Regions from separate parts of the Homo sapiens genome. Here all the other regions are linked to region 1. Evidence: fine-mapped expression QTL. A gene starts in region 1. Each other region holds a variant in brackets. All regions are shown on one strand. Distances are between the middles of the regions.

What was found. PIP is the estimated chance that this variant, and not a neighbour inherited with it, causes the effect.
Region 2: its variant is fine-mapped to the expression of CPNE2 in whole blood (INTERVAL, PIP above 0.99).
Region 3: its variant is fine-mapped to the expression of CPNE2 in whole blood (INTERVAL, PIP above 0.99).
Region 4: its variant is fine-mapped to the expression of CPNE2 in naive CD4 T cells (Schmiedel 2018, PIP 0.95).
Region 5: its variant is fine-mapped to the expression of CPNE2 in whole blood (INTERVAL, PIP above 0.99).
Region 6: its variant is fine-mapped to the expression of CPNE2 in nucleus accumbens (GTEx, PIP 0.98). The same link has a PIP of 0.9 or more in caudate.
Region 7: its variant is fine-mapped to the expression of CPNE2 in naive CD4 T cells (Schmiedel 2018, PIP 0.95).

What each region holds. Positions count from the first base shown.
Region 1 is chr16:57,090,287-57,094,286 of GRCh38, forward strand. It overlaps CPNE2 (copine 2), which reads left to right and starts at 2,297. Exons shown (of 16, transcript NM_152727.6): 1 at 2,297-2,504. RefSeq lists silencers at 1,819-1,888, 1,909-2,158, 2,269-2,318, 2,379-2,788.
Region 2 is chr16:57,130,116-57,134,115 of GRCh38, forward strand. The region is part of intron 12 of CPNE2 (copine 2); the gene reads left to right. Among named protein-coding and RNA genes, the nearest start is that of CPNE2, 40 kb to the left of the region's middle. The variant G/A (reference allele first, on the strand shown) is at 1,951.
Region 3 is chr16:57,237,085-57,241,204 of GRCh38, forward strand. It overlaps RSPRY1 (ring finger and SPRY domain containing 1), which reads left to right. Exons shown (of 15, transcript NM_133368.3): 15 at 1,795-3,385. The coding sequence ends at 1,891. Among named protein-coding and RNA genes, the nearest start is that of ARL2BP, 6.1 kb to the right of the region's middle. The variant ACT/A (reference allele first, on the strand shown) is at 1,965.
Region 4 is chr16:57,930,880-57,934,879 of GRCh38, forward strand. It overlaps CNGB1 (cyclic nucleotide gated channel subunit beta 1), which reads right to left. Exons shown (of 33, transcript NM_001297.5): 17 at 837-999. Among named protein-coding and RNA genes, the nearest start is that of CNGB1, 38 kb to the right of the region's middle. The variant T/C (reference allele first, on the strand shown) is at 2,409.
Region 5 is chr16:57,023,406-57,027,542 of GRCh38, forward strand. NLRC5 (NLR family CARD domain containing 5) reads left to right here. Exons shown (of 49, transcript NM_001384950.1): 5 at 380-448; 6 at 1,963-3,613. Among named protein-coding and RNA genes, the nearest start is that of NLRC5, 36 kb to the left of the region's middle. RefSeq lists an enhancer at 3,046-3,564. The variant C/T (reference allele first, on the strand shown) is at 1,657.
Region 6 is chr16:57,114,303-57,118,425 of GRCh38, forward strand. CPNE2 (copine 2) reads left to right here. Exons shown (of 16, transcript NM_152727.6): 4 at 1,174-1,248; 5 at 3,194-3,265. Among named protein-coding and RNA genes, the nearest start is that of CPNE2, 24 kb to the left of the region's middle. The variant C/T (reference allele first, on the strand shown) is at 1,764.
Region 7 is chr16:57,950,616-57,954,615 of GRCh38, forward strand. The region is part of intron 12 of CNGB1 (cyclic nucleotide gated channel subunit beta 1); the gene reads right to left. Among named protein-coding and RNA genes, the nearest start is that of CNGB1, 19 kb to the right of the region's middle. The variant G/A (reference allele first, on the strand shown) is at 1,718.

The sequences.
Region 1 (4,000 bases):
GAACATTTTTTATCATCTCCCAAAGAAACCCTTTGCCAATAGCAATCACTCCCCATTCTCCACTCCCCGGCCGAGGCAACCACAAATCTGCTTTGTCTGTTTGTGGATTTGTCTATTCTGGACATTTCATCTAAATGGAGCCATGTAATATTTGTCTGAGACTGGCTTCTTTCACTGGGCATAATATTTTCCAAGTTTGTCCATACTGTAGCATGTATCAGTACTTCCCACCTTTCTTTTTTTCCTTTCTTTTTTTTTTTGGAGGGGGGATGGAATCTCCCTCTGTCACCCAGGCTGGAGTACAGTGGCGCAATCTTGGCTGCAACTTCCGCCTCTTGGGCTCAAGTGATTCTCCTTCCTGCCTTCCGAATTGCTGGGATTACAGGTTCTTGCCACTACGCCTGGCTAATTGTTATATTTTTAGTAGAGACAGAGTTTTGCCATGTTGGCCAAGCTGGTCTTGAATTCCCGACCTCAAGTAATCGCCCGCCTTGGCCTCCCAAAGTGCTGGGATTACAGGTGTGAGCCACCACAACTGGCCAGTAATTCGTACCTTTCTATGGCTGTATAATATTCTATGTTGTGTGGATATACCACATTTTGTTTTTCCATTCATCAGTGGATGAACATTTGCGTGGTTTCCACTTTTTGGCTATTATGAATAATGCTGCTACGTACATTTGTGTATGTTTTGTGTGGCCATATGTTTTCATTTCTCCCGGGTAGATATCTAGGAGTGGAATTGCTGTGACCCCTGGCCTTTGTACTCTGCCTCCTTGGCTAGGGATCTAGTATCTTCCTTGACAGGCCCAACTATCTCATCCTTCAGGTTTCTTAAAGGAAGCCTCGCTGACTCCCATGGCTGAGTTGGGTCTTCTGTGCCACCCTACCTCCAATCTTTGCACATTTCATATGGTGATATGATGGCCTGGGTCCTGATCTTGGCCCCCACAGGTGAGCAACTTGAGAGAGACTATCTGCTTTGGTTCACCACTGTCCATCCCAGTGCCTGGCTCTCCTGCTGCTGGAAAGACAAGAGACAGATTCTGAGGCCAGAGCAATCAGGAAAGTCTTCCTGGAGGAAGCGGGGCTGGAGTTGGGTTGATAGGTTGGTTTGCCCCAGAGCGGGGCAGAGGGCTTTGATTGGCTTCGGTGGAAGAAAGGTGAAGAGAGCTTGGAGAAAGGAAAGATGGATGGGTGACAGGCAGGCAGAGAACAAAGCTCAGAGCCCCGGGGGCTGTTTAGTCTCGGCCCCTGTAAGGCTGCAAAGTGCCAGTGACTCAGACGTGGAGGGAGGCTCACAGGCTGCAGCGCGCGAGGCTCCCACATTAACCCTCACCTGCCTGGAATCGAAAAGCCACAATGGAAGCACTCGGCATTAACCCTCAGCTGCCCAGTCCTTGAGCCCCAGGGCCAAGGGCTGTGGACATGGCCTTGAGATCCCCGGGAAAGCCCCGCCCCCCAGAATCTGGTTACGTGAGGCTCAGCCTTCTGATGCCCGGTGGTGAACTTGCCCAGAGAGCACCTAAATACCGCGGAGTGGCCAAAGGCTTGAGCGCCCAGCGACAGACAAGTGTCCTAAGAATTGGTGCCTCTTCTAGGGAAAAGGAGGCCTGGGCTCCAAGGCCTTAAAGACTCGCCTAATTTTCCGCACGGATGAGTAGACCCAGGCCCAGTTCGGATCCGTCTTTATCTTATCGTCTGTGTCAGAGAAATATGTCATATTTCCAATCTCTGGCGGCAAGAAAATGCCGAGCTCTTTTGCTATTGAAAAAAAAAAGGGAAGAAAACACTGCGGCCCTAATCCTGCCCAATACAACCCAGAACCCAGCCTTGGGTGTTGCCCCGAGGGCGCAGCGCCGCTCCCATCGGCGCTGGGGGTCCAAGCGGCCCTGGGGCCCCGCAGGCCCGGGCTGAGGCCACCCCTCTGTTCCCGCGTCGGTGGCCCTGAGCGCACGGCGCTCGGAACTCGGAGGTGCCAGAGGCTCGGGCAAAGCAGGCCTGGGGAGGGCGCGAAGCCGCGTTGTTCCGATCCTCAGCCACCTGAGTCCCAGCCTGGAACCTTCGGACCCTCGCGTTCGGCCCGAACGTTCGGGCCCCCTCGGTGCCAGGCGCCCCGAGTGCCGCGGCGCGCCGGGCGCGGGCTGGGAGCGGCGGACTGCGGGCGGGACAGCGCCCCCGCTCCTCCCGTGGGAGAGCGCGCGCCCCTCCAGGAAGCTCCCGCCTCGCCTCCCACTTCCCTCCCCACTCCCCTCCTCGGCCGGAGGGAGGAGCCCGAGCCGCCGCCGCCGCCGCCGCCCGCCCGCCCGGCCCGGGAGGAGGACCGGACCCCGAGCGGCTGGGAGCGCACGCGAGCGGGCCGTGGCCGCGCGGGCAGCGCCCTGAGCCTGTCCCGCGCCCGCGGGCCCGGCCGAGCAGGAGCAGCTCCCGGGGATGCCCGGGCGGCTCGGAGCGCGGGCAGCGGCAGCCGTGCGGTGAGGGCGGTGGCGCCCGCGGGACCTGCGGTGAGTGGGGCCCGGGCAGGCGGGGCAGCTTGGCGTGAGTGCCCAACTTCGGCCTTGGGGCTGGGCTCTTTGATCCAGCTGCGGGTCCGAAGGAACCCGGGTTCCGCCTCGGGGGGCTGCGGCGCTCTAGCCCCCGCCGCCAGCGCGAACCCGGACTCCGGCGCTTCGGTGACTCAGCTCCGACCCGGCCACGCGGGGGCGCCCCGCCGGCTCCCGGACTGCGGGGAAGGGCGGGCGGGGTCCCTGGGGAGGGGGGCGCCCTCGGGGGTCCGAGCCCAGCTGCTTTGGGGACCCTTCCACCCGCCCCGAGGGGCTTGGAGGGCGTACGGGAGGTGGAGACCCGCCGCTGCCGCAGCTGCTGAAGGCGTGAGGTCGCCCTGGCTCTCGGCGGGCGCTGGCTCCTCTCCGCTCCCCTCTGCCCTCCTCCCACCCCTCAACACCCACCCCCTGCCCCAGGCAACTGCCGGAGGGCCGGCTCCCAGCCCCGGTACTGGGAGCGCAGAGGGGGAGTGGAGCTGGGCAGCTTCCCAGAAGTCGGAGTGTGTTTGCAAACTAGTTTTTGCGAAAAAGCTGTCTGGCACCTGTGTGTTTAAAGGGGGTGTGGGGGTGGGCATGGAGAGAGCGGGCGAACAAGGCCCTCTCTTATTCCCCGTTTCTCACAGCGATGCTCCTCTGAAAATAGAGGGGTCTTACACCCTCTTCCCTGCTCTTCCCACCCCATCCCCCAGCCTCGCTCCACGTCCCCCCGAGTTCAAGAAGCTCTCCTATGGGGAAGGGGCTGCTTCAAAGGGGGCTGTGATTTGCCCAAGGTCACAGATGCTGCTGGCTCTGGTAGCTAATAGGGTGTTCATCTTGCATCTGAATCCCCTGCCCCATATGTACTGGGGGAAGGGACAAGGGGTCTGGAAGAATGATCTTCCAGACAAAACGCCCTTTTTTTTGTCTGCCTTAGTTTTTTGCTCCCTTAGAGGTGTGTGCTGTCATCAAAGGTTGGGGGGCTTTTTCTGCCCCTTGGGCATCCACAGCTTCACGGACTGCAGGGAGCCCATGGTTTTCAGGAAACAGGCGGTGTGCGCAGATTGTAATCCCTGGCAGCTGCAGCCTGCCCTGATGGGGAGGCCTGGGAGACCTGGGTCTGAACCCCACCTATGACCAACAGGGAACTTGGCCCAGACCCTCCCCCCCTGTGGCCCTCTGGGTCACCATCTGTGAAATGGGCTGATGTTCCGGGGCCTGCCTCCTGGAGAATGGACACAGCATGAAGGCGTGGTTTTATGGCATTCCGCCTGGCATAGGTCCAGGTGAGCTCCAGGACCGCCCCAGCCAGCTGGATTGGAAGGGGTCACCCAGGCAGGTTTCTCCATGGAAAGAACCAGGGACGAAGGATGTGGACGCTTGGGTTCGTTTTGCGGCCGTCACTTCCTGTCTGCGTGCCTTGTCACCCCTTGGACTTGGGGGGTTTTCTGTCTGTAAAATGAGGCAAACTGTGACATGAT
Region 2 (4,000 bases), 40 kb after region 1:
CACACTTATAATCTTAGCACTTTGGGAGGCTGAGGAGGGTGGATCACAAGGTGAGGAGTTCGAGACCAGCCTGGCCAACATGGTGAAACCCCGTCTCTACTAAAAATACAAAAATTAGCTAGGTGTGGTGGCGGGAGTCTGTAATCCCAGCTACTCGGGAGGCTGAGGCAGGAAGATCCCTGGAGCCCAGTGAGCTATGAGTGCACTGCACTCCAGCCTGGGTGACAGAGTGAGACTCTGTCTCTAAAAAATTAATTAATTAATTAATTAAAATAAAAAAAGAGACAGCTGCATGAGAGAGCCAGGCAGATGAAGCGGAGACTGAGCCCGGGGGCAGAGCAGGGAGGAAGTGAAGGAGGGAGGGGCAGAAAGCAAACCCATAAGTAGCAGCATTTATTGGGCCCTTAGAATGTTCTAGATACCACTCTGCCTGCTTTACCAGTTTCAACTAATTCTCACCAAAGCCAATGAGGTAGGCCCTGTTATGAACCCATTTTGATCGTTGAGGAAGCCAAGCAGTCAGGGCTCGGGGAGGAGGGAGTGGGGTTGGAGGCTGCCCCTGGGCCTGGTGAGGTAAGGCTGAGAAGAGACCATCCGTTTCACTGACCATGGCTGGGGCCATTATGGCAGAGACAAGATGGGGAGGGGAGAAGGGCATGGAGACATCAGCCAGTGTGGCAGTCAGCCAGCGTGGAAGTCAACTGGCTGTGAGGGAGGGGAAGGGTTAGGTCAAGCAGGTCTAAAGGCTGAGGAGGAGCCAGGAGAGGCGTGGAGGTGAATTGAAGCGGGGGTCCCTGAGGTGTGGTTGTGGGTAGTCCTGGGGCAGGAGGCGGGGGCTCCTCATAGAACCACGGGCACCAGGGGAGGGGTGGTTTGGTGGCTCAGAGATGGAGACGTCAATGAGGGCAGAAGCTGTGATGCTGGGGAGTCGCTGCAGATGGGCAGGGAATGCTGTCCCATTTTACAGGGCAATAAACTGAGGCTTGGAGCCTCAAAATGACTTGCCCAAGGCCATGTTCACCAACTGGGCAGTTGGACTCTAAAGTTTCTTCTCAGACACTGTTGCCTCCCCATGAGAAGCCTGTGGGGTGTGAGGCCAGAGAGCTCCTAAGCCTGCACATGGGTCTCGCTCGGCCAGTGCCCCTTCTTGTCTGCCCTGCTGTGCCGCATTGCTGTTTCCAGAGTGAATTTTTGCCTCCTGTCCTCTCTGGTCCTCTCTGGGGAGGATGATTTTCACCTAGAATTTCGGGGAGTGGCCCAAGGGCCAGGGCAGGAGATGTGGGTGTCCTGGCTCCCTGTGGTGTGAGGCTACGCCTCAGATGGGACCAAAGCTGGGCCACAGTGATGCCATTCGGGGGGCAGGGCGAGCTGGTGCGGCTGGGCCCAGCACGAGCCCGTTGCTAGGACACCAGCCAGCTTTCAAAGAACTGAATGAGATGTTTTCTTGAGCAAAAGCCTCCTTGTAAATGTCACAGGGCGATGCTGGGGAGGCCAGGGCTTGGCCAGGCTGGAGTGCCCGGCGGTGCCAAGAAAGATGCTGCGTCCAGGCTAGGAAAGGACAGATGCTGTGTCCCACCTCCCCCTGCCATGGGAGCCGCCAGGCCTGGCCCCTCCTGGCCCCTCACCCTCTCTCGCATTCTGACTCGCCTCACTCCTGCTGCCTGAAGCTCCTTCATTCACTCCCACCTCAGGGCCTTTGCACATGGCCTTCACTCAGCCCGCTGCTCCCTCTCCTGGGCTTCTGCCACCGATTTTCACCTAGAATTTCGGGGAGTGGCCTGCCCTCTGGGAGCCATGCTCACACTCACATGGGGGCCCTTCTTCCTGCCCAGAGCCCTGCCCTCATGGAACTCTGTGACTTGTTTGTGATTGCCTGGGGAAGGCACTGGGTTTCTTTCTGCCTGCATCCCAGCACCTGGCCTGCAGTGTGCAGTGCCATTGTTTGTTGAC[G/A]GAATGAATTTGGGACCCAGCCCAAATTTGGGACCCCAGGCCTGAGCAAACAGAGGGGTCGGTTCTCTGAGGGTGGGAAGCTAGAAGGAACCAGAAGGAGCACGTGACCAGGCTGCCTGCCTTTGAGACCTCAGTTTCTCCCTGAGGGTGGCCCAGATGATCCCAGAGAGAACTCCTGCCCCAGAGAGTGGCTGAGGGTCTCAGGACGCGTTTCCCTTTGGAGATGGCATGAGGTCTTGGCCCTTCAACGTGAGCAGAGTTACTCAGATGAGGAACGGGATCTGGGCAGAAGGCACAGTCTGTGCAAAGGTCTGGGAGGAGGGGGAGCATACTCTGCAGGTGGGGAAACTGAGGCTCAGAGAGGACAGTCACTCTGAGATCCCTTGGGCTTTCTCCATGCCCCACCCGCTGCCTCTACCACCTGCCTCAGCCAGGGCCACAGGGAACTGAGCCTGAAGTAACTCCCTGACCTCAAGGCTGAGCCAGGCCAGGTTGGGTGAACAGGGCCATTGGCTGTCAGAAGGCAATAGGGAGTCCCAGGACAAAGGCCTGTGGCTGGCAGCCAGTCCCCAGGGGCCCCTCATCAGCTTCTGTGGCCTCCAGGAACTTGTTCTGTTTATGACTTTTCTCAGGCAAACCAGGGCAACCAGTATGGGAGGGGCTGAGCTGCCACTCCTGGTAGCATGGACACTTGTCCCCAGGCCCCACTGTGTGACCTGGGCACTCCCTGGCCCTCTGGGAACCTCACTCTTTCCAGCTATGAAATGGAGTTGCTGGAGGAGACAACCTCTGGGGCCTCTGGGGCAGATGGACAACCTTCCACAGCCCCCCTGACCGCAAGGCTGGGCCCTCCCCAAATAAAGAGGGGGGAAGAGTGGGGATGAAGAGCGGGGGGCCCGAGAAGGCAAAATATTCCTCCACCCCTATCAGCAGGGGGCTTTCCCACTGTGGTCTCTAAAATCTCCTAAAATCTGATTTTTCAGGAAGACTTTGGCCCAAGGGAGTCCTGTTTCCCTGGCAACCATTTTCTCTCTCAGCCCCTCCATACAAGCCCCCCTCGTAATCTCTATAGAGGCTCAGGAAGTCTCCATGGCAACAGGGACCTCCAGCCCCCAAACCTGGAGCCCAGACTGGGGACAGGGTGAAGTGGGCCCTGGACAGGGACAGGACCCAAGAGGGACACCAGGGGACTGGCTCTGTGCCGGGCGCCTAAAGCAGACAGCAAAGAACAGAAAACCCCATTGCCTGAAACGGGGAGGAGTCCTCCCACCACCTCCCCTCCCCTGGGCTGCCAGGGAGGCCAGACTGAACCCCACTGCTGGGTCCCTGCCCTCTCCCCCAGGAGTAAGACCAACTCCCACCCCCAGGGGAGGGGAGGGCACTGGGTCTCAGGCCTGTTCGACTGTGTGGCTCTGGTGCCTGGCTTCCCTTTTCTGGGCCTCGGTTTGTTTATTTGTAAAATGGGGACGCTGGATGCAGGAGAGCCTCCCAGTACCCCCATCGTCATGTCTTGGAGCTGAAGAGTCTGTCTGGGATTGTCTGTGCCCAGACAAAAGCCCTCCTCCTGCAGCTGAGGACCGGGGCACCCCTCCACCCTCCTCATTGAAAATCCCTGGGGGAGGAATGCCTTTGGAGGTTAGCGTGAGCTCTGGGAGCAGCCTGACCTCAGTTCGAGTCCCAGCTCTGCCCGCCAGGAAATGTGGGAAAATTCTAGTCCACTCTGTGTCTCAGTTTTGTCATCCATAAGATGAGGTGATAACAGCTGCCCTTCCATTGGGGTGTTGTGAGGAAGGAGTAAGGGGATTCCTGCACAGCAGTGAATGCGGATGTGGTACATGGTAGGAAGGGGGCTGAGGGGGATTTGGGGCTGTGGGGCTGCAAGAGAGGGAAGAAAGGAGGGACTGTCCCCCATCTGAGCTCTGCAGCGTCTCCCGAGGCCTTGGGTTCTGCAGGCACTGCAGTCTCACCCACAGCCCTGAACGGGGCCAGTTATGAGTCCTTCTATACCCCGAAGCCATGCGAGCAGCAGCAGCCGGATGTGATGGGTGCA
Region 3 (4,120 bases), 150 kb after region 1:
TAAACCTGGGAGGTGGAGGTTGCAGTGAGCAGAGATCGTGCCACTGCACTCCAGCCCAGGCAAAGGCAGGTTTTTTTGAGATGGAGTCTTGCTCTGTCGTCCAGGCTGGAGTACAGTGGTGTGATCTCAGCTCACTGCAGCCTCTGCCTCCTGGGTTCATGCAATTCTCCTGCCTCAGCCTCCCGAGTAGCTTGGATTACAGGCGCATGCCACCAGGCCCAGCTAATTTTTGTATTTTTAGTAGAGACGGGGTTTCACCATGTTGGCCAGGCTGGCTCGAACTCCTGACCTAAAGTAATCCACCTGCCTTGGCCTCCGAAAAGTTCTGGGATTACAGGCATGAGTCACCATGCCCAGCCTACAATATAGAAATCTTTAATATAATTACTCAAATAGGCCAGAGGCAGGAGAGGGGCAGTTATCACTTCAAGAATGCTGAGAAAGCATTTGTTAAAATTCAATATCCATTCCTAATGGATGAAATACTACAAAACAGAAATGAATGGACTAAAACAATATAAAATAGGAATGGATGGATACTTCCATAACAATACAAAAAACACATATATTTCAGCCAAATGCTAGTATCTCTTTATTTTTTTATTTTTATTTATTTATTTATTTTTATTTATTTATTTATTTTTTGAGACGGAGTCTCGCTCTGTCACCCAGGCTTGAGTGCAGTGGCGTGATCTCAGCTCACTGCAACCTCCGCCTCCCGAGCTCAAGTGATTTCTCCTGCCTCAGCCTCCCAAGTAGCTGGGATTACCAGTGCCCGCCACCATGCCCAGCTAATTTTTGTATTTTTAGTAGAGACGGGGTTTCACCAGCTAGCATCTTTTTAATGGTGACACATAGGAAGCATTTCAAGAGATGTTGGGAATAAGATAAGGATGCCTACTGTCACCACTATGACTTACAAAATACACAAAAATCAGTAGCTCTTCTAGCTATATGTATAATAGCAGCCAGTTAGAACATATAATTGAAGATCCCTTTTACCATGGTTAAAAAAAAAAGTGCTATCTAAGAATACATAGCAAGAAATATGTAGAGCGTATATGAAGAAAACTTTTAAACTACCAAAGAGTATAACAGAAGACTTAAATAAATGAGTCTCTTCTTGGATAGGAGGACCTCTCAGTATTGTAAAGGTGACAGTTTTCTCTAAACTCTAAGTTTAATTTGCTCAACATAAAAAGAGCAACATGATTTTTTTCTGGAACTTGACATGCTGATTTAAAAGTTTAAGGCAAGAAAATTCTGAAAGTTAGGGAGATGACAACCATACCACATCTTAAAATACATTAAAATAAATGTTAATAGTTTGGTCCCATTACTATATGACAAGAATGGCAGAATAATGGAATACAATAAAAGCCCAGAAATAGAACTAACTAAAAATGAAAATTTACCATATGACAAAGGCATTGTGTCAAAACTGTGGTGAAAGATGGACTGTTTGGTAAATGATTCTGGGATAAATGGCTAGCTTTCTGGGGAGAAATATTATATCCCTACCTATAAGTGCACATCTGTAAGTATATGCTGTGCACATATAGAGTGTCTGAAAGAATGCATATGAACTTTTTACTTGTTCCACAGACTAAGACAATTGAGGATCAGAAATGTAAGATTTACTTTTTATTTACATATTCATTTTTTTTAAACCATGTATAATTAGTAACCCTTTCAATGAACAAACTTGTTAACATTTTTGATTTAGTTGGCAGGCAGTTGGAGTTTGACCTTTTGAAGCATTAACTTGACTGACTTTTCTGTGTTTCTCCCCAGTGACCTGTGCATGGATTGTGCCTTGCAGCTGGAGACCTGCCCATTGTGTCGTAAAGAAATAGTATCTAGAATCAGACAGATTTCTCATATTTCATGACACATGTGAAGAGGCATCGTGGACTTTTTTCTACTCAATTCCAGCCAATGTTGAAAAGAAAAAGAAAAAAAAA[ACT/A]CTCTAATCAGTTGTACACACATTGAAACTTATAGCCATGGCCAGATTTTATGCTAAAAATGGTAGTTTGTCAAAGACAAAATTCTCTTAGAATCTAATCCAACTTGCCAGCCCTGAGAAAATCCCTTTTAAGGCCAAGGAAAGCTGAATGCTAGCAGCCAGGCCTGTGGTACTTCCATGAGAAACCATAGCAGACAATGCCCTCCCAAGTACTGAAATCACACTGGAATCCCCCTTGTTGGGTTCATTTGATTGTTTAACACAGGATGTGTTGTGTCATTCTGAAGTTTTTATTTGGGGCAGAAGTCTTTATGGAGATGTAAATGACAGCGTTTCTGGGTTATGCATAACTTCTCACTGGTCAGAGACACCGGTGTGTCAAGCATGGATATTGCATTGCAAGACTTGAATCTATAAAAATTAGAATCACACAGTCAGTACTACAAGCAAAACAGAGAACCTGAAAGAAGGTGCACAGACTGTAAGAAAAAACCCAAGTTTGTGATATTTCAGTGATTCCAAAGAACATTCTAGGTTTTTTGTTTGTTTTTTTGTTTTTTGGGTTTTTTTTTTTTACTGCAGAAAATTGGTGGTATTTTCACATTCATAGTGTTTCTATCCAATTTCAGTACCCACATTTAATGAGGAAAAAATGTTTTACCAATGAAGGAGGAATTCTTAAATTAGCTGTAATGTTAGGTTGGAGAAAATTTGGTATTTAGGGTATTTTCAAGGTACCATCAAATCAGATTTCTGTTTTTTTGTTAAAAAAAATTTTTTTAATCAGTATTGTTTTTACAAGTAATATACTTTGAAACTCTTGAACTAATAGTCTCAAAAACTCTAGAGGACAGTCTGAGAACACGTATTTCTATTGTTCTAAATAAATACATGTTTTTGAATAGTTCAATCATGAATTATTGACTATGTCTTCATCAAAAGTGTTAATCCCTCTCAGGGTCTCTGGTGAAGACCTTCAAGAGTTTGGTTTTTTCTCCCAGGAAATTGGAAGGTAGAATTGTAAATTCATAGAACTTCTTTTATAATGGTGTACCTCAGCAGCTGCCTTTCAATTTATGCCAAGTCCTTACAGAGTTTATACTTGAATAGTAAATATGTCTTCTGAGTTTTACAGTGTCTTAAACTCAATGCACATTTTTTTTTCTTCTTTTTCCACCCCTTCTTGTTTGTAGTTCATTATACCTGTCCTATTACAGAACTGATTTCCTTCCTGGCTGTACATGTTGGGGTGCTGGATTTTTTTCCGTGTCTTTAGTCTTCCATAAATCCACACACACACACACACACAAAAAATATATATATATATAAATATATATGTAGGATACATGTTCTCTTCTTTAGCTTGTGGTGAATACAGTAATTTGCATTGAAGAATAAAACATCTGTTGCCTTTTTTGACTAAGATTTCACAACTTTCATTGGTGTATACTGCTAAGGTTCCAAGACATTATACTCTCAGACTTTAAGGGCTACTTTTGGGAGTAGGAGAGAATCAAGTATTAGAATTAAGAATAAGGCCACTTACTCATCCAGCAGATTGTTATTGAGCACCTAATATGTGCTGGGCACTGTGCCTATGTGGCATACAAAATATGCTTGTAGAGCTTATGTCTAATAAGCTTGTCTAATTATTGTCTATTATTATGTCTAACAGTAATTTGGAAGTGGTCCAGCTGAGACTAAAGGTAGTCTGTACATTTAGTAGAGAGAGGGAAAAATAGATGGAATTAATAGATAATTTGCGAGGCAAAGGAATGCAGGAGCCTAACAGCTTTCTAAAAATCTACCCTTGAAGTTTGTTCCTAAGGTGGGGAGAAGACAATATATTTGTGTTTATTGTAACAGATTTTTAGTGGAAAAGAATAGGGTCCTAGAGAGAATGAGGGGGACCTAATTTAGATGGTGGTGGGAGTGTCAGAAGAAACCTCACTGGGGAAGTAACATTAGTGAAACTTAAAGGAGGAAGTAGGACATAGCCTGGCAGAGACTGAGGACTAGCTTCTAGGACTGGGTAGCTAGGCGAACACAACATTTTAGGCAAAGGCACTAACTGAGGAAGAATGGGTCTCAGTGGGTTTGGGGATCCGATGGAAGGCCCCTGTAACTGGAAAAATAGGAAGCAAGTAGGTAGAA
Region 4 (4,000 bases), 840 kb after region 1:
AGGGAGTTGCTGTTCAATGAGTATAGAGCTTCAGTCATGCAAGACGAAAAATTCTAGAGATGTGCTGTAAATAATGTGCATATAGGTAACAATACTGTACTGTACACTTAAAATTTAAGAGTTTTTTTTTTAAAAAAGACTTGGTGAGTTATAATATGCAAGTTTTAATAAATAGCATCCTATCAAAAATGAAATAAAATAAAATGTGGAGGTAGAAATTAATTCTGTAACATTTATTATGTATTACTATATTATTTATTTATTTTAAATTTAAAAAGTTTTTTTTTTTTATTTTTTGAGACAGAGTCTTGCTCTGTTGCCCAGGCTGCAGTGCAATGGCACAATCTCAGTTCACTGCCACATCCCAGGCTCAAGCAATTGTCATGCCTCAGCCTCCCGAGTAGCTGGGATTACAGGAGTGAGCCACTATGCCTAGCTAATTTTTTTGTATTTTTAGGAAAGACGGGGTTTCGCTATGTTGGCCAGGCTGGTCTTAAACTCCTGGCCTCAAACGATCCACCCACCTCAGCCTCGCAAAGCGCTGGCATTACAGGCAGTAGCCACCGTGCCTCGCTATTACTATATTATTTATTATATTACTCCTTCTAACTTATAGCTGAGGGCATTTGGGACAGGGCCTCCCATGAGAGCTTTTATAAGAGACCTAATTCAGGAGTTAGGAAAACGAGGAAGGGGCATCATAGTCCCACTTCTGACACCAACTCGCTGTGTGATTTTAGTCCAGCTGCTTCTCCCTCTGGCCTCAGTCTCTTCATCTGCCAAATAAACAGGTGGCACAGTGCCGAGAAAAGCCCAAGAGAAGCATAAAAGGTAACCTGTGTGTCCCCGAGGCTGAGCTTGGGACTATAAGGGTGTCTGATTTGGCAGGAGACGGTGGCGGCAACACGGTTGAGGGTGGATTCTCTTCTGCCATGAGGGGGCAGCTATCAGCATCAGTATCTTCCACCTGCACTTCTGGGTGCTGTTTCGTGGCAGGCACTGGGGGAGAGGAAGGAGAGGAGAAAGTCAGAGAGAGACAAAAGCTGGGTCCCAGGAGTCCAGCTGTGTTCTTGAAGAAAACCAGAGAAAGCATGTTTGGAGGGGACTCTGATAGCTTCACTTCCCAATGGGGCACACAGAAAAGCTCCATGCAGGGGGTACAGGAACGTGGTGCCTGGGGTCCTCTGAGGGTCACAGCCACCAGCCCAGGAGCCACGAAAGAAGCCACAAAGCCACAGAAACCACGGGAGCTCCCCTACACAGCCTGGAGCCCAGCTCTCCTAGCTCTCAAAGCCCAGTTTGGTTTCCCTGCACTTGAGCAAGCTCCAAGAGCTGAGGCAGTGGCAGCCCCCAGAGAGGACACAGGAGAGCCAGAGTCCTGGCGCCTGGCCTAGCACAGCCTGAGTCAGCTGCTTCCCCTCTCTGAGCTTCAGTTTCCCCACCCCAAGTTAGGGTGACCATGCCTTCCCAGGCCTGTGGGGAGGAGCCAGAAGGCACAAGTACTCACATTCTTAAAGATTCTTTTTTTTTTTTTTTTTTTTGAGTCGGAGTCTCGCTCTGTCTCCCAGGCTGGAGTGCAGTGGTGCAATCTCAGTTCACCCCAAGCTCCTTCTCCTGGGTTCATGCCATTCTCCTGCCTCAGCCTCCCGAGTAGCTGGGACTACAGGCTCCCGCCACCACGCCCGGCTAGTTTTTGTTTTGTTTTGTTTTGTTTTTTTGAGACAGAGTCTTGCTCTGTCACCCAGGCTGGAGTGCAGTGGCACAGTCTCGGCTCATTGCAAGCTCCGCCTCCCAGGGTTCATGCCATTCTCCTGCCTCAGCCTCCCAATTAGCTGCGAATACAGGCACCTGCCACCACGCCCGGCTAATTTTTTGTATTTTTAGTAGAGACCGGGTTTCACCGTGTTAGCCAGGATGGTCTCGATCTCCTGACCTCGTGATCCACCTGCCTCGGCCTCCCAAAGTTGCTGGGATTACAGGTGTGAGCCACTGCACCCAGCCAAGTCCTCACATTCTTTTTAAAAATTATTTTATTTGTTTGCTTTTGAGAAGGGGGGGCGGGTCTCACTCTGTCACCCAGGCTGGAGTGCAGTGGCACGATTGCAGCTCACTGCAACCTCTGCCTCCTGCAACCTCTGCCTCCCAGACTCAAGTGATCTTCCCGGCAGCCTCCCGAGTAGCTGGGACCACAGACGCACACCACCATGCTCGGCTAATTTTTGTGTTTGTGTAGAGATGAGGTCTCACCATGTTGCCCAGGCTGGTCTCGAACTCCTGAGCTCAGGTGATCCACCTACCTTGGCCTCCCAAAGTGCTGGGATTACAGGCGTGAGCCACTGGGCCCGGCTGGCCTCACATTCTTGAAGAGCATCAAATGGAGACATTTGCAGGGTCCCTCCAATCAAGGG[T/C]AACAGACTGTGTAGTGTGTGCTACTTCCTATTTGGATAACTGCTTGGTTATGTCCTTGTTCTTGTACATGCCAGGGGCCCCCAAATTCATCAGCTAGCCTGACTCTGGACCTCTGAGAGGCCCTGTACTGTGTCCCACATTCTGAGAATCAGGTCCTCTCCAGGGAGCCTGGACGTGGCCCTACCTTGGGCTCCATCACCCACCTCAGGGACTGCAGGGACAGGTCTGCCCCAAGTCCAAGCTCAGAGGATACTGAGAGGCTGGGATAGTATTCCTCCTTCTCCCCTACACCTAGGGGGGTCTACCCAATAGCAGCTGGGCACAGGTGTGGGCACCAGCAAGGCAGGCAGGGATACACCCCCCAAAAGCGGGAAGCAGGGAGATTTTGAAATAATTATATATGTGCTTTTTGTTTCTTTTTCTTTCTTTTCTTTTCTTTTTTTTTTTTTTTTGAGATGGAGTCTCGCTCTGTCGCCTAGGCTGGAGTATAGTGGTGTGATCTCGGCTCACTGCAACCTCTGCCTCCCAGGTTCAAGCCATTCTCCTGCCTCAGACTCCTGAGTAGCTGGGATTACAGGCCCCTGCCACCACGCCTGGCTAATTTTTGTATTTTTAGTGGAGACGGGGTTTCACCATGTTGTCCAGGCTGGTCTTGAACTCCTGATCTCAGGTGATCTGCCGGCCTTGGCCTCCCAAAGTGCTGGGATTACAGGCATGAGCCACCGCACCCAGCCGATATGGGGTTTTTTTCAAATGGCCTTTATAAGAAAAGCCGGCACTCTGTTAAATTGCTTACACTTACTCTATAGTTTAATGGAGTGAACCCTAAATCCTCTGGAGAAGAGGATGAGCAGGAATGGAGAAGTTGTTAAAAATGTAAAGGGGGCCAGGCACAGTTGCTCATGCCTGTAATCCCAGCACTTTGGAAGGCTGAGGTGGAAGGATCCCTTAAGTTCAAGAGCAGCCTGAGCAACATAGCAAAACCCCACCTCTACAAAAAAATTCAAAAATCGGCTGGTCACAGTGTTCCAGCTACTTGGGAGGCTGAGGTTGGAGGATAGGTTGAACCTGGGAGGTAGAACCTGCAATGAGTCAAGATCGCGCCTACTACACTCCAGCCTTAGCGAAAGAGCGAGACCCTGTCTCACAAAATAATAAAAAATAAAATAAAATGGAAGTAATGTTCTTACTACAGCTTCTCATTACCTTGTCTGTAGCATCTAGAATCATCATGTACTCTAGCACAGCTAGATCAGCCCCCTGTGTCAATGTGTCCCCGGGAACATTTTCCCAAGTGTGGGGCTCCCAGAGACTGGGGAGGACACGAGATGATCTCAGATGGTACAGACAAGGCAAAGTATAACCTAGAATAAGAATGTTACTCCTGGTCGGGCGCAGCAGCTCACGCCTGTAATTCCAGCACTTTGGGAGGCTGAGGCAGGAGGATGACCTGAAGTTAGGAGTTTGAGGCCAGCCTGGCCAACATGGAGAAACTCCATCTCTACTAAAAATACAAAAATTCCCCAGGCCTGGTGGCATGTGCCTATAATCCCAGCTACTCAGGAGGCTGAGACAGGTGAATGGCGTGAAC
Region 5 (4,137 bases), 67 kb before region 1:
CTGGGAACTTCACTTATATGACCACCGGCGGCTTCCATAGAGCTTGGTCCTTCCCTGATGGACAGATGGCCATTTAGTGCTTGGAGCTGAGTGTTTCTGGGGGCTGCTGGCTGTTGGCCCTGCTTCCTGCATCCTGGACTGCAAGACTGCCAGGCCCAGAACATCCACCTTCCAATGGGGGTGCCTAGAAGTCCACTCTGCAAATAGAAGCTGGTGTTGACCCAGCCTCTGCCTGCTGCCTGCCTTTCCAGTCCCTGCATGTGGGTGTACTTGGCTGCCTGCCACCTGTCTGTGGACTGGAGTTCCCCAAAGGTTCTGGGTAACCCCTCAGCCCAGATCCCCAGACCCCACTCCTCCACCCCTTCCTTTGCTTTTTCAGGCCTGAAGCGCCCACATCAGAGCTGTGGGTCCTCACCCCGCCGGAAGCAGTGCAAGAAGCAGCAGCTAGGTGGGTACCAGTGTGGGGAGGAACATAAACAGAGAGATGGGGTTGCCTGGGGGCCAAGACCCGGACCCTGGACCTTGTCCCCTGCCAATAAGCCTCCAGAGGCCCAGTGACTCTTGTCTCGCAAGTTTCCAGGAGAAAAGGACTGGAGGTCTTGCACAGGCAGAGGAGAGGCCTGGGCTGGCAGCGAAGGGGCTCCCCACCCATCTGGCTGCATGGGGACTTCTCTGAAGAGGGCTCCGCTGAAGGAGCTGGAAGCACCATACAGGTCTCAGCTTCGCTGTCCAGGCTTTTCCAGGGACACCCTATGTCCTCAGTGTTGAAGGAGACCCAGGGAGGAGACCAGTTTGGGGGTGAGCAGGGATGGGGAGGGGTGAGGAGGCCTGGGAGAAACCTTCAAGACAGAGGCCCTGGGGGCCCATGGGGAGACATGGAGCTGCTTAGGGCAGGCCAGGCCAGTGAGAGAAGAAAGGGGACTTCTCTCATTCTTGACCAGTTCTCAGAATGGTCCTCGTTCTCCACGAGTTGTCCCACTAACTAGAGCCTTCTCTGCCCCCACTGCTGCCAACCATGGCTATAACCAGAGGATTCACATCCGCTCAAAATAGTTCACTACCTTGGCCTTTCCCCATAGGGTTCCCCCAAAAGCAGCCCCAGCCCTTTCCCTGGGTCACCTGAGACCTCTCAATGACCCAGGAATTAAAAGGTTAACATCTGGCACTGTAGGGGCCCAGCTCCCACAGTTCCGATCGGTAATGCCTAGGCCTACAGGTTGTTAGTGCTCACCCCTGGGCATTGCAGAACTGAAATATTGGGAAGAGGCACTGGGGATCCAGATATTACAGAAAGAGGTTGTTTCAATAAGATATTGCAAAGTAGCTGGGCGCGGTGGCTCACACCTGTAATCCCAGCACTTTGGAGGGCTGAGGCAGGTGGATCAGTTGAGCCCAGGAATTCAATACTAGCCTGGCCAACGTGACAAAACCTTGTCTCTACTAAAAATACAAAAATTAGCTGGGTGTGGTGGTGTGCACCTGTAGTCCCAGCTACTCAGGAGGCTGAGGCAGGAGGATCACTTGAGACCAGGAGTTTGCGGCTACAGTAAGCTAGGATCGTGCCACTGCACTGGAGCCTGGGCAAGACTGAGACTCTGTCTCTGGGAAAAAAGAAAAAAAAGAGATGTTGCAAAGGAGGTGCCCTATTCCCCTCCC[C/T]CCATCTTACTGAACCCTTACACCACGTGTACTATTGCAGAATGGATAGAACCGTGACCCACACTTCCCCATTCCCACCTGCCTGTTTAAATAGCTACCGGAGAGCCTATGCTCCCTTAGAACTGATTCCTTCTGGAAGTTGGGGTGGCACAGATCCCCCTATGGTGCTCTTGACACCCCCACCCTCACCCCATCATACATACACATCTGGGGCTACAGGCTCCCAACAGCCCAATACTGGGGCAAGAAGACATGAGCAGAGGGCCGGGGGGTCCTCTCCTCATGCCATGTCCCTGCCCCTTGCAGAGTTGGCCAAGAAGTACCTGCAGCTCCTGCGGACCTCTGCCCAGCAGCGCTACAGGAGCCAAATCCCTGGGTCAGGGCAGCCCCACGCCTTCCACCAGGTCTATGTCCCTCCAATCCTGCGCCGGGCCACAGCATCCTTAGACACTCCGGAGGGGGCCATTATGGGGGACGTCAAGGTGGAAGATGGTGCTGACGTGAGCATCTCGGACCTCTTCAACACCAGGGTTAACAAGGGCCCGAGGGTGACCGTGCTTTTGGGGAAGGCTGGCATGGGCAAGACCACGCTGGCCCACCGGCTCTGCCAGAAGTGGGCAGAGGGCCATCTGAACTGTTTCCAGGCCCTGTTCCTTTTTGAATTCCGCCAGCTCAACTTGATCACGAGGTTCCTGACACCGTCCGAGCTCCTTTTTGATCTGTACCTGAGCCCTGAATCGGACCACGACACTGTCTTCCAGTACCTGGAGAAGAACGCTGACCAAGTCCTGCTGATCTTTGATGGGCTAGATGAGGCCCTCCAGCCTATGGGTCCTGATGGCCCAGGCCCAGTCCTCACCCTTTTCTCCCATCTCTGCAATGGGACCCTCCTGCCTGGCTGCCGGGTGATGGCTACCTCCCGTCCAGGGAAGCTGCCTGCCTGCCTGCCTGCAGAGGCAGCCATGGTCCACATGTTGGGCTTTGATGGGCCACGGGTGGAAGAATATGTGAATCACTTCTTCAGCGCCCAGCCATCGCGGGAGGGGGCCCTGGTGGAGTTACAGACAAATGGACGTCTCCGAAGCCTGTGTGCGGTGCCCGCACTGTGCCAAGTCGCCTGTCTCTGCCTCCACCATCTGCTTCCTGACCACGCCCCAGGCCAGTCTGTGGCCCTCCTGCCCAACATGACTCAGCTCTATATGCAGATGGTGCTCGCCCTCAGCCCCCCTGGGCACTTGCCCACCTCGTCCCTACTGGACCTGGGGGAGGTGGCCCTGAGGGGCCTGGAGACAGGGAAGGTTATCTTCTATGCAAAAGATATTGCTCCACCCTTGATAGCTTTTGGGGCCACTCACAGCCTGCTGACTTCCTTCTGCGTCTGCACAGGCCCTGGGCACCAGCAGACAGGCTATGCTTTCACCCACCTCAGCCTGCAGGAGTTTCTTGCTGCCCTGCACCTGATGGCCAGCCCCAAGGTGAACAAAGACACACTTACCCAGTATGTTACCCTCCATTCCCGCTGGGTACAGCGGACCAAAGCTAGACTGGGCCTCTCAGACCACCTCCCCACCTTCCTGGCGGGCCTGGCATCCTGCACCTGCCGCCCCTTCCTTAGCCACCTGGCGCAGGGCAATGAGGACTGTGTGGGTGCCAAGCAGGCTGCTGTAGTGCAGGTGTTGAAGAAGTTGGCCACCCGCAAGCTCACAGGGCCAAAGGTTGTAGAGCTGTGTCACTGTGTGGATGAGACACAGGAGCCTGAGCTGGCCAGTCTCACCGCACAAAGCCTCCCCTATCAACTGCCCTTCCACAATTTCCCACTGACCTGCACCGACCTGGCCACCCTGACCAACATCCTAGAGCACAGGGAGGCCCCCATCCACCTGGATTTTGATGGCTGTCCCCTGGAGCCCCACTGCCCTGAGGCTCTGGTAGGCTGTGGGCAGATAGAGAATCTCAGGTGAGTAAGAGTGGAGGAGGACCGGGGAGGGGATTGGGCTTTTGGGGGAGCAGAGGCCAACCAGTCTAGCAAACCTCTGCCAAGAGGACTGGATAAGAATCTTGAATATCAGAACATAATGGCCTGCAATGCAAGAGAGGAAGCTCCATACCTTGACAGGACCTCTGGAGTCCAAATGGATCCTCCTCTTGTCTGTGGTTTCTGGACTCTCAGTCTCTCTGTCAATCATGGGCTGAAACCACAGATCCAGGCTGTCTATAGAGGCTGGTGGACTTTGGGCAAGTATATGGAGCACACACATGCACACTGTCTAGGCCAGAGTTTCTTCGTTCCTAAAACGAATCTGTAACAATAGCCAACTCATATGGTCATTGCAAGAATGAGATGGGATGGTGCATGAAAAACATTTTGTAGCACAGTGCCTAGCACAGAGCAAAGGCTCAGTGTGCATATTAGCTAGAGAAAAGGCTAGGCTGCAGTAACAGAGAAACCTCCTCCCCAAATACAGTAGGTTAAATAATGTA
Region 6 (4,123 bases), 24 kb after region 1:
CCACCTTCACCTGGAAGGAAGGCAGGGTGAGGAAGTGGCATTGCCAGGGCCTGGTAAGACCTGTGGCCCATAGAGGGAGGCCTCTGGACTGCAACTGAGGCAGAAGACAGAGTAATGGAGAAGCTCCCATCAAACGGGGGCCCCCACCTCTCACGCCACCTGCTCTCCCGTCTCCTGCCCATCCCCCCAACTGGCTGAACCTCTGAAAGCCAGAGGGCAAAAGAGCCAGGTGGCACAGTCCCCAGGGCACAGAGCAGGTGTGTGGATCTGCGGAGAAGAACTAGCCCCACAGGAGCAGGACTAGATCATACTGATGTGTGCTCCCCGCTGCACAGGACGACGCTCGCACTGCACCCAGGAAGCACGAACCATGCTGGCCCCTGAGTGCAGTGGGCAGACACAGGTGGGAGGGTGACTTTGCAATGTGGCCCACTTTTCCTCTCTATGTTGTTTTGATTATTGCACCCTGTGTAAGTGTATTACCTATTGAAACCAATAAAAATAGAAAGAATTGGCCGGGCTCTATAGCTCATGCCTGTAATCCCAGCACTTTGGGAGGCCAAGGCGGGAAGATCGCTTGAGCCTGGAGTTCGAGACCAGCCTGAGCAACATAATGAGCCCTTGTCTCTACCAAAAAAAAAAAAAAAAAAAAAAAAAAGCCAGGCGTGGTGATGCATGCCTGTAGTCCCAGCTACCCAGGAGGCTGAGGTGGGAGGATCGCTTGAGCCCAGGAGGTTGAGGCTGCAGTGAGCCGTGATCGAGACCTGTCTCAAAAGGAAAATACATAGAATCTGAGCTTGACTCTGTCCATCAGAGATCATATCCTGAGGCAGGTGGGGTCTGTGGAATGCCTCTGGAGGAGGGAGTTAGGGGGCTAACCTCCCACAGTTGTCTCCAAAATGCCTTTTCCTAGGGGCAAACCAGGCAGTGGGAGTCCAACTGCAGCGGGAGACCTCAGGCGGGTCTCTTACCCTCTCTGGGCCTCAGGCTCCTCACTGCCCAGATTGGCTGCTGTCCACCTCCCAGGGTGATGATGATGCTCAGGCGGGTCACCAGCCAGCCAGGGCGGGGTGCAGCCCTGCCAAGAGGATTTTTCCGGTGCCGGTGGAGGATTTTTCCTTCCCGGGCTTCCCCCGCTTCCTCACTGAGCGCCCTTTCTCCTCTCTCCCCTAGATCGTCTCCAGCAAGAAGATCACTAGGCCTCTGCTGCTGCTGAATGACAAGCCTGCGGGGAAGGGCTTGATTACGGTACCAGTCCCCTCCCGGCTCTCCGCACCCCCTCCATCCCCACCCCACACCCTCCCCCATCAATGGGCCGCTTCCCTGGCAGATAATCACCAGCTTTGTTTGGAGTAAAAAGGCCCAACTTACAACTTAGCAACAGGTCTCTTAGCAACCGGCTGCTGGCTCCACAAATGATGCAGTGGGGGCTGACAAGCTGGGGAGGCCTCCAGAGCCCTGCCAGCAGCCCCCTCCCTGCACTGGCCCCTGCCTGCCCTCCCCTGGGGGTCGTTCAGAAGTGCCCTGCCCATCAGTGCCCTGCTTGTGGCTGCGACGCGCAATGATTCCTGCAATGCGCAACGACTCCCGCGATGCGCAGTAATTCCGCTGGAGATGCACAGGCCCTTCGCCCGGATGAGCTCCTTGGTCTTCAAAGACTCCCAGAAGCCAGGGCCACCCCTGAGACCCAGAGAGGAAGTTCCCTGGGGCAGCTGAGCTAGCGAGATCGTCCCCTGGTTGTCTGGCTGGCTTCTGAGCCCACG[C/T]GATGCCTGGGAAGCCGGCCAGGCTGGAGGGAGAAGCCATGCCTTTGTGTGTTCCCGTGTGTTACTCCCCTGTCCTGGAACCTCACATGGCTCCCCACTGCCTGACCAACCCTTCGGTTCAAGGCTGTGAAGGACCCCTCAGACCCTGCCTGGCTCTCCTGCCTTGGTGTTTTTTTAATCTCCTTCACTTAAATGCCCTGCGTTCAAAGCAAACTGAATTCTTAGCATATCCTGAACATACCTCAGGCTCTTACTCTGTTCCTGCCCCCACGGATCACCACCTCCCAAACAACCTCCCCCAACCTCTTGGTTCCTAACTGGCCCATCTAAATGCCTTCCCAGGCCAGGTGCATGGCTTGCACCTGTAGCACTACTCCTTGGAAGGCTAAGGCAGGAGGATCCCTTAAGGCCAGGAGTTTGAGGCTGCAGTGGGTTATGATCATGCTACTGCCCTCCAGCCTGGGCAAGAGAGTGAAACCCCATCTCTGAATGAATGAATGAATGAATGCCTTCACAAGGCAGCTTCCACCTAGAAGCCATCTCAGACAGACCCCACTCACCCGGGTATGCCATCACCCCAGCATTTCTGGCAGTTCCACTCTAGGCCTCCATCCCGTCCCCTGGGAAATGGGGGTGATAATAGGACCTACCCTATAGGGTTGTTGAGCAAGTCCCAGTGGGAGGACGGCAGGGGAGAACGGGCAACATGGCTGGCCTCTGTCTGTGGGTCCAGAGGGCCAGATGCCTTGCGCTGGGTGAGGCCATCCTAGAGGCAGGAGAGGAGAGGAGGCCCCAGCGAAAGGCCCCAGCCCACTTGTGTTGCTGTGGGCAGCAGGGGAGGGAGAGAGGCCTACAGGGGGCCTCAGCAGTCTCGAAGTCGCCCAGCTAGGCCATCACTGGCTGGGCTGGGGTCAGGGAACCATAGCTGATGGGGAATGCATGGAGGACAGATGACCAATGTGAACTGATGGGACTCAGTTTCTCCCCTGGGCCTCAGTTTCCCTAGCTGTACAATGAAGTGGCTGTGATGCTGACACCTTGGTGTTCTGAGGAAGCTGTGCTCTCTGTGGCTGCCGCAGGGGCAGGAGAAGGCCGGTCATGCTGCTCTCTGGGCCAGAACCTCTCCCCGGGACTCAAGACCACCCCCGGTGTCTGGTCCTTGCTTCATCTCTGCCCACCACCCCATGGGCCCTGCGGATTTGCGTAGATCCGCTTCCTGACTCCTCATCTCCAGATGGGTTATTTTCCGCATTTTCCAGAAGATGGAAACTGAGGTGTGGGGAAGACAAGAGATTTGTCCAAGGTCACCTGGAACTGCCCTTCCCTTCCCCCTCCTAGCCCTGGAGGATTGCTCCTGGGGCACCCTGTGCCATCCTGCCTGGCAGGAGGCTGGGGGAGTCTGAGGAGCCCCTCATGTCCCGGCCTTACAGATCGCTGCCCAGGAGCTGTCCGACAACCGCGTCATCACACTAAGCCTGGCGGGCAGGAGGCTGGACAAGAAGGTAAGGCGGGCAGAGGAAGGGCTCCCATTGGGAACAGTAGCCCCCACCAGCCCCAGGGCTGTGTGGCCTCATTCCGGGACCTCGGGCCACCACCTCCATCACATTCTAGGGACTGGTCCAGCACGGGGCCCTCCTGGCCACTCCAGATTAGGACTCCTTCACCTCTGAGGTAGTGAGTGTTCCATCCCTTAGGGGTATTCAAAACACACCTGGAAACCTGCTCATTGGGGCATCCCCATCTCACTTAGTGTAAGTACATTCCAAGGTCCTTACCCAATGGGGCCCTGCCTGATGTGTCCCCAGTGCCCCGACTCTCCGACCTCACCCCTCCTCCCCGCACCTCACTCTGCTTCAGCCAAACCTAGCCCCTTGTCCGTGAATTAAACGAGGCACTCTCCTCCCTCAGGAGCTTTGCACTTGCTGTTCCCTCTGCCTGGGATGCTCTCTTCCTTGAATTTTCTCACGGCACCCTCTCACCTCCATCAAGCCTTTGCTCCCACATCACCTCCTCAACGAGGCCTTCCCTGAAATTGGTCTTCAATTTCCCACCCCCTCCTTCTCGTCTCCTTAACACTATTACTGTCTAGCATACTTTCTTTCTTTTTTTTTTTTTTTTGAGACAGAGTCCTGCTCTGTTGCCCAGGCTGGAGTACAGTGGTGTCATCTCAGCTCACTGCAAGCTCCGCCTCCTGAGTTCATGCCATTCTCCTGCCTCAGCCTCCCGAGTAGCTGGGACTACAGGCGCCTGCCACCACGCCCAGCTAATTTTTTTTTTTTTTGTACTTTTAGTAGAGACGGGGTTTCACTATGATAGCCAGGATGGTCTCGATCTCCTGACCTTGTGATCCGCCTACCTCG
Region 7 (4,000 bases), 860 kb after region 1:
TGCAGGGAGCCCTGGCTGTCGCCAGCAGTGCCTCAGTGCTTAGTCATGCAGTGGGGAAATGGCACTTTCCATTTTCAGCGGGACCAGATCGGTGTTCCGGTGATAGGTTGAAGCCTGTGCTCATTCACTCTGTCTCCATTATTTTCCCCCCTTCTCCTCTTGAGACAGAGCTTTGATTATGGTTGATCCTGTTTGTTTCTCACGGGGGATTCCTTCTTAAAGGTTTGTGCAGAGGCAGAAACAATGCTTCCAATCACAGCATCACAGGGATGCCAAAAGGCCCAGGTTCAGGGTCCACCTGGCCACATCCAGGTGCAGGTGGACTGGATTGTCCTGGGGGATGCAGAGAGAGCTTGCCCGCTTCCTGCTCTGTAGATGCCACCCCCGGGTGACAGCACGCCCATACGTTCGGCATTTGCTTCTGAGAGTCCTTCCCTCCCTCCTGGGTCTAGAGGCTCCGCCCTCCAGGGAAACTCATCTTTCTCATGGGGGTGGTCCCAATTTCAGATGGGAGTCTAATTTTCAACACTTCTTCAAGTATCCTGGTCCTTGACAACAAAAACACCCTGGGCCTATAAGCCTGGCAGATGCTCAAAGGGAGTGCAGAGCAGTCTCATCAGGAACCTAAGCCTACCCCCAGGCAGGTGTCAGGGACAAAGGACAATGCCTGAATACTAGGTGTCCCCCGAAAGCTCCAGGGATCTTGGTGGACCTCAGCCAAACATGAATTAGTAATAGTGACTTTTTTGTTGTTGAGACAGGGTCTTGCTCTATTGCTCAGGCTGGAGCGCATTAGTGCAATTATGGCTCACCTCAGCCTCGACCTCCTGGGCTTAAGCAATCCTCCCACCTCACTCAGCCTTCTGAGTAACTGGGACTACAGGCATGCACCACCATACCTGGGTAGTAGTAACAATGACTTTAAATGGAAGCCGGCCTCAAGTCTTATCCTGAGACTTTGGCTGTTATTGTTCATGATGTTGCATAACAACAATAATAGTAACAGCAGCTGCATTTTTGAGCACTTACTATGTTCCAGGCCCTGTGCTGAATGGCTTACGTGGAATAACTCGATTAGTCCTCACATCAACATTTTGGGGTTATAATTTGCATCCCCATTTTATTTTCCCTCTTTTATGTTTTTCTCCCCATTTTACAGATGAGCAAACTGAGACACAGATAAATACCTTCTTTTATGGGGTGCTTCCATTGCCAGGCACAGAGCTCCCCACTTCTAGGTACAGATATTATCCCTGTTTCACAGATGAGGTGCTGCCTGCCCTCTAGGGAAGCCCCAAGAGCATCCTGAACTAGCTGTTTCCATGGTTGCTCCCGGCTCCTCTGGCCCTGCAAACGCCCCTGGGGTTTGGCCAGGGAGGCTCCTCCAAGTGTGACCCTGAATCCGGTGGTGGGACGCTTTGTCTGTGTCAGTCTATGCTGCTGTCCAGCAATAGTGCCATGTCTCCACTCTAAGCAGCCCCTTGGGATGCCAGTTCCTGCCTGGGCATAGCAGGGGACATCCAGGGAACAGAACATCTTGCCTGACAGCACGTGAGCTTTCACAGCAGCCCCAAAGGGCAGGAACAGTACTTTCCCCCTTTTAAAGAGAGCCAGCTCAGAGAGGCTGAGTGTCTTGTCCCAGGCCACACAGGAAGGTGGAGGCAGAGCCAGGTCCCCTGACTCCCGTTTTCCCAGTGCACTATCCCAGGTGATAAAT[G/A]TGCCCCACGAGCGCCTCACTGGCATCAGTGGCCACTCCTTATGGGGTGCCGTCCTTAAGAATTGATGCTGTCCTTGCTTCCACACTTCCTTTCCTTTCCTTTCCATTAACATTTTCTTTTTAGGTCCTATTTAGTGCGTGGGTGTTTTACAAGCATTTCCTTTTTTTTTTTTTTTTTTTTTTTTTTTGAGACAGAGTCTCACTGTGACACCCAGGCTTGAGTGCAATGGTATGATCTTGGCTCACTGCAACCTCCGCCTCCCATTCAAGCAATTCTCGTGCCTCAGCTTCCCGAGTAGCTGGGATTACAGGCATGCACCACCACACCGGGTTAATGTTTGTATTTTTAGTAGAGATGGGGTTTCACCGTATTGGCCAGGCTGGTCTCGAACTCCTGACCTCAGGCAATCCACCCACCTTGACCTCCCAAAGTGCTGGGATGACAGGCATGAGCCACCATGCCCGGCCTCATTTCCTCTTTCCATCTCCGCAGCAGGCCTGCAAGATGTGTCCTATACTGTTCCCATTTTACAGCTAAAGATTCTGCAGCACTGAGAGGAGGACGGTGCCCAAGATCACCAACCTGGAAGGGGAGGGATTGGGTATGCTGCCACACAGCCCCCAGGGCAGGCCCCCAGGAGGCGTGGTGCAGGAGCCCCTGGCCCACCCCTGGAGCTCCAACTGCCCCTCTCTACAGGCAGCTGATTCATAGCTCGCCCAGCTTCTCCGTGGCCCTACCCAGGTGCTCAGGAGCTATGAGTGCCCTAGTTCCCATAGAAACTGCCACTCCACCCTGGCACACCACCTCCTGGTCAGTGGCCTCTCTGCCCTCAGGGCCATCAAATGAGGTTCTGACCCTGGCCAGTGAAAGTCAACAGCCTCGGTCGGACACAGTAGCTCACACCTGTAATCCCGGCACTTTGGGAGGCCGAGGTCGGCAGATCATGAGGTCAAGAGATCGAGACCATCCTGGCCAACATGGTGAAACCCATTCTCTACTAAAAATACAAAAATTAGCTGGGCGTGGTGGTGCACACTTGTAGTCCTAGCTACTAGGGAGGCTGAGGCAGGAGAATTGCTTGAACCCGGGAGGTAGAGGTTGCAGTGAGCCGAGATCACACCACTGCACTCCAGCCTGGTGACAGAGCAAGGCTCAATCTTAAAAAAAAAAAAAAAAAAAGAAAGTCAACAGCCTCATGTAGGAAGGAGCCCCTGCTTCCAGGATCAGCAGGCAGGAGCCAGGGCACATGAATTCTAGGCTAAGGTCCCCACCTGGACCCCTGGGTCTCTGTCAAAGCCTGAGCCCTAACTCCAAACCTCCATCCTTTCTGGCAGGCCTGGGTCATGATACCTCCTTCCTCTGCCTCTCCCTGGCTCAGGCTCACATCTCCTCCTACCTGGCCCCAAAGCACTAACCTCTCACTGGATGTTTCTCAAAGTATGGTCCCAGCCTCTACCCCGTCATCAGAATCATCTGAGAAAGCAGGTGCTTCTCAATAAAGCAGATTCTTCCATAACCATTGCTTGGTCATCAAAGAAAAAAGAAAGAAAGAAAGAAAAAAAAAACAACACAGAACCAAATTCCCAGCTCCCGGTACTCTTGAATCAGAAAGTCTGGGGTAGGACATTTTTCATAGTTGGCCCCAGGTGCTTTGGAAGTGTCCCTGCTTTGATTGCTTTCCCTGTCTCCAATGCTTGCTCAGCCTCAGAGTAATCTTTCTGAAGTCACTCCCCTGCTCAATCACCTTCAATGGCTCCCCATTGCCTACAGCTTAGTTTCCTAAAGTCAGGCCCCAACTTCTCTAGTTTTATCTTCTGCATTAAGGATGCTGGGCTCCAGATTAGCTGAAGTCCCACCACTCTCCTGTATGCCACACTTTATTCCCTCTACTGGGATTGCCCCACCTCATCACCAGTTTGAGACCTCAGGGATCTCAAATCCAAAGGCCTGCCCAGCCAGGGTGATGATGTAAACAAATGAAGAGGCAGGTGCCACCTGCCTTCAGGTGCCAGCAGCTGCCCAGACTGTCCTCACAAGCACAGTGTGGGCCCATGACAGCCAAGTCCACCCAGTTTTCAAGAGAAGCCAGATTTTTCCATGTAAAGCTACCTGATTTTTAAATGTTGGCAATCAATTCTAATTTTTAAAATCACTCCATGGCCCAAACAAAGACACATGTGGGCCAGCTGGGAGCCAGGACCCCCAGCTCAGGACCCCTGGCTAATTCCTCTCCTCCTGCAACCCAACACCGCAAGCCCAGGGCTATTCAGTCCACCCACTTT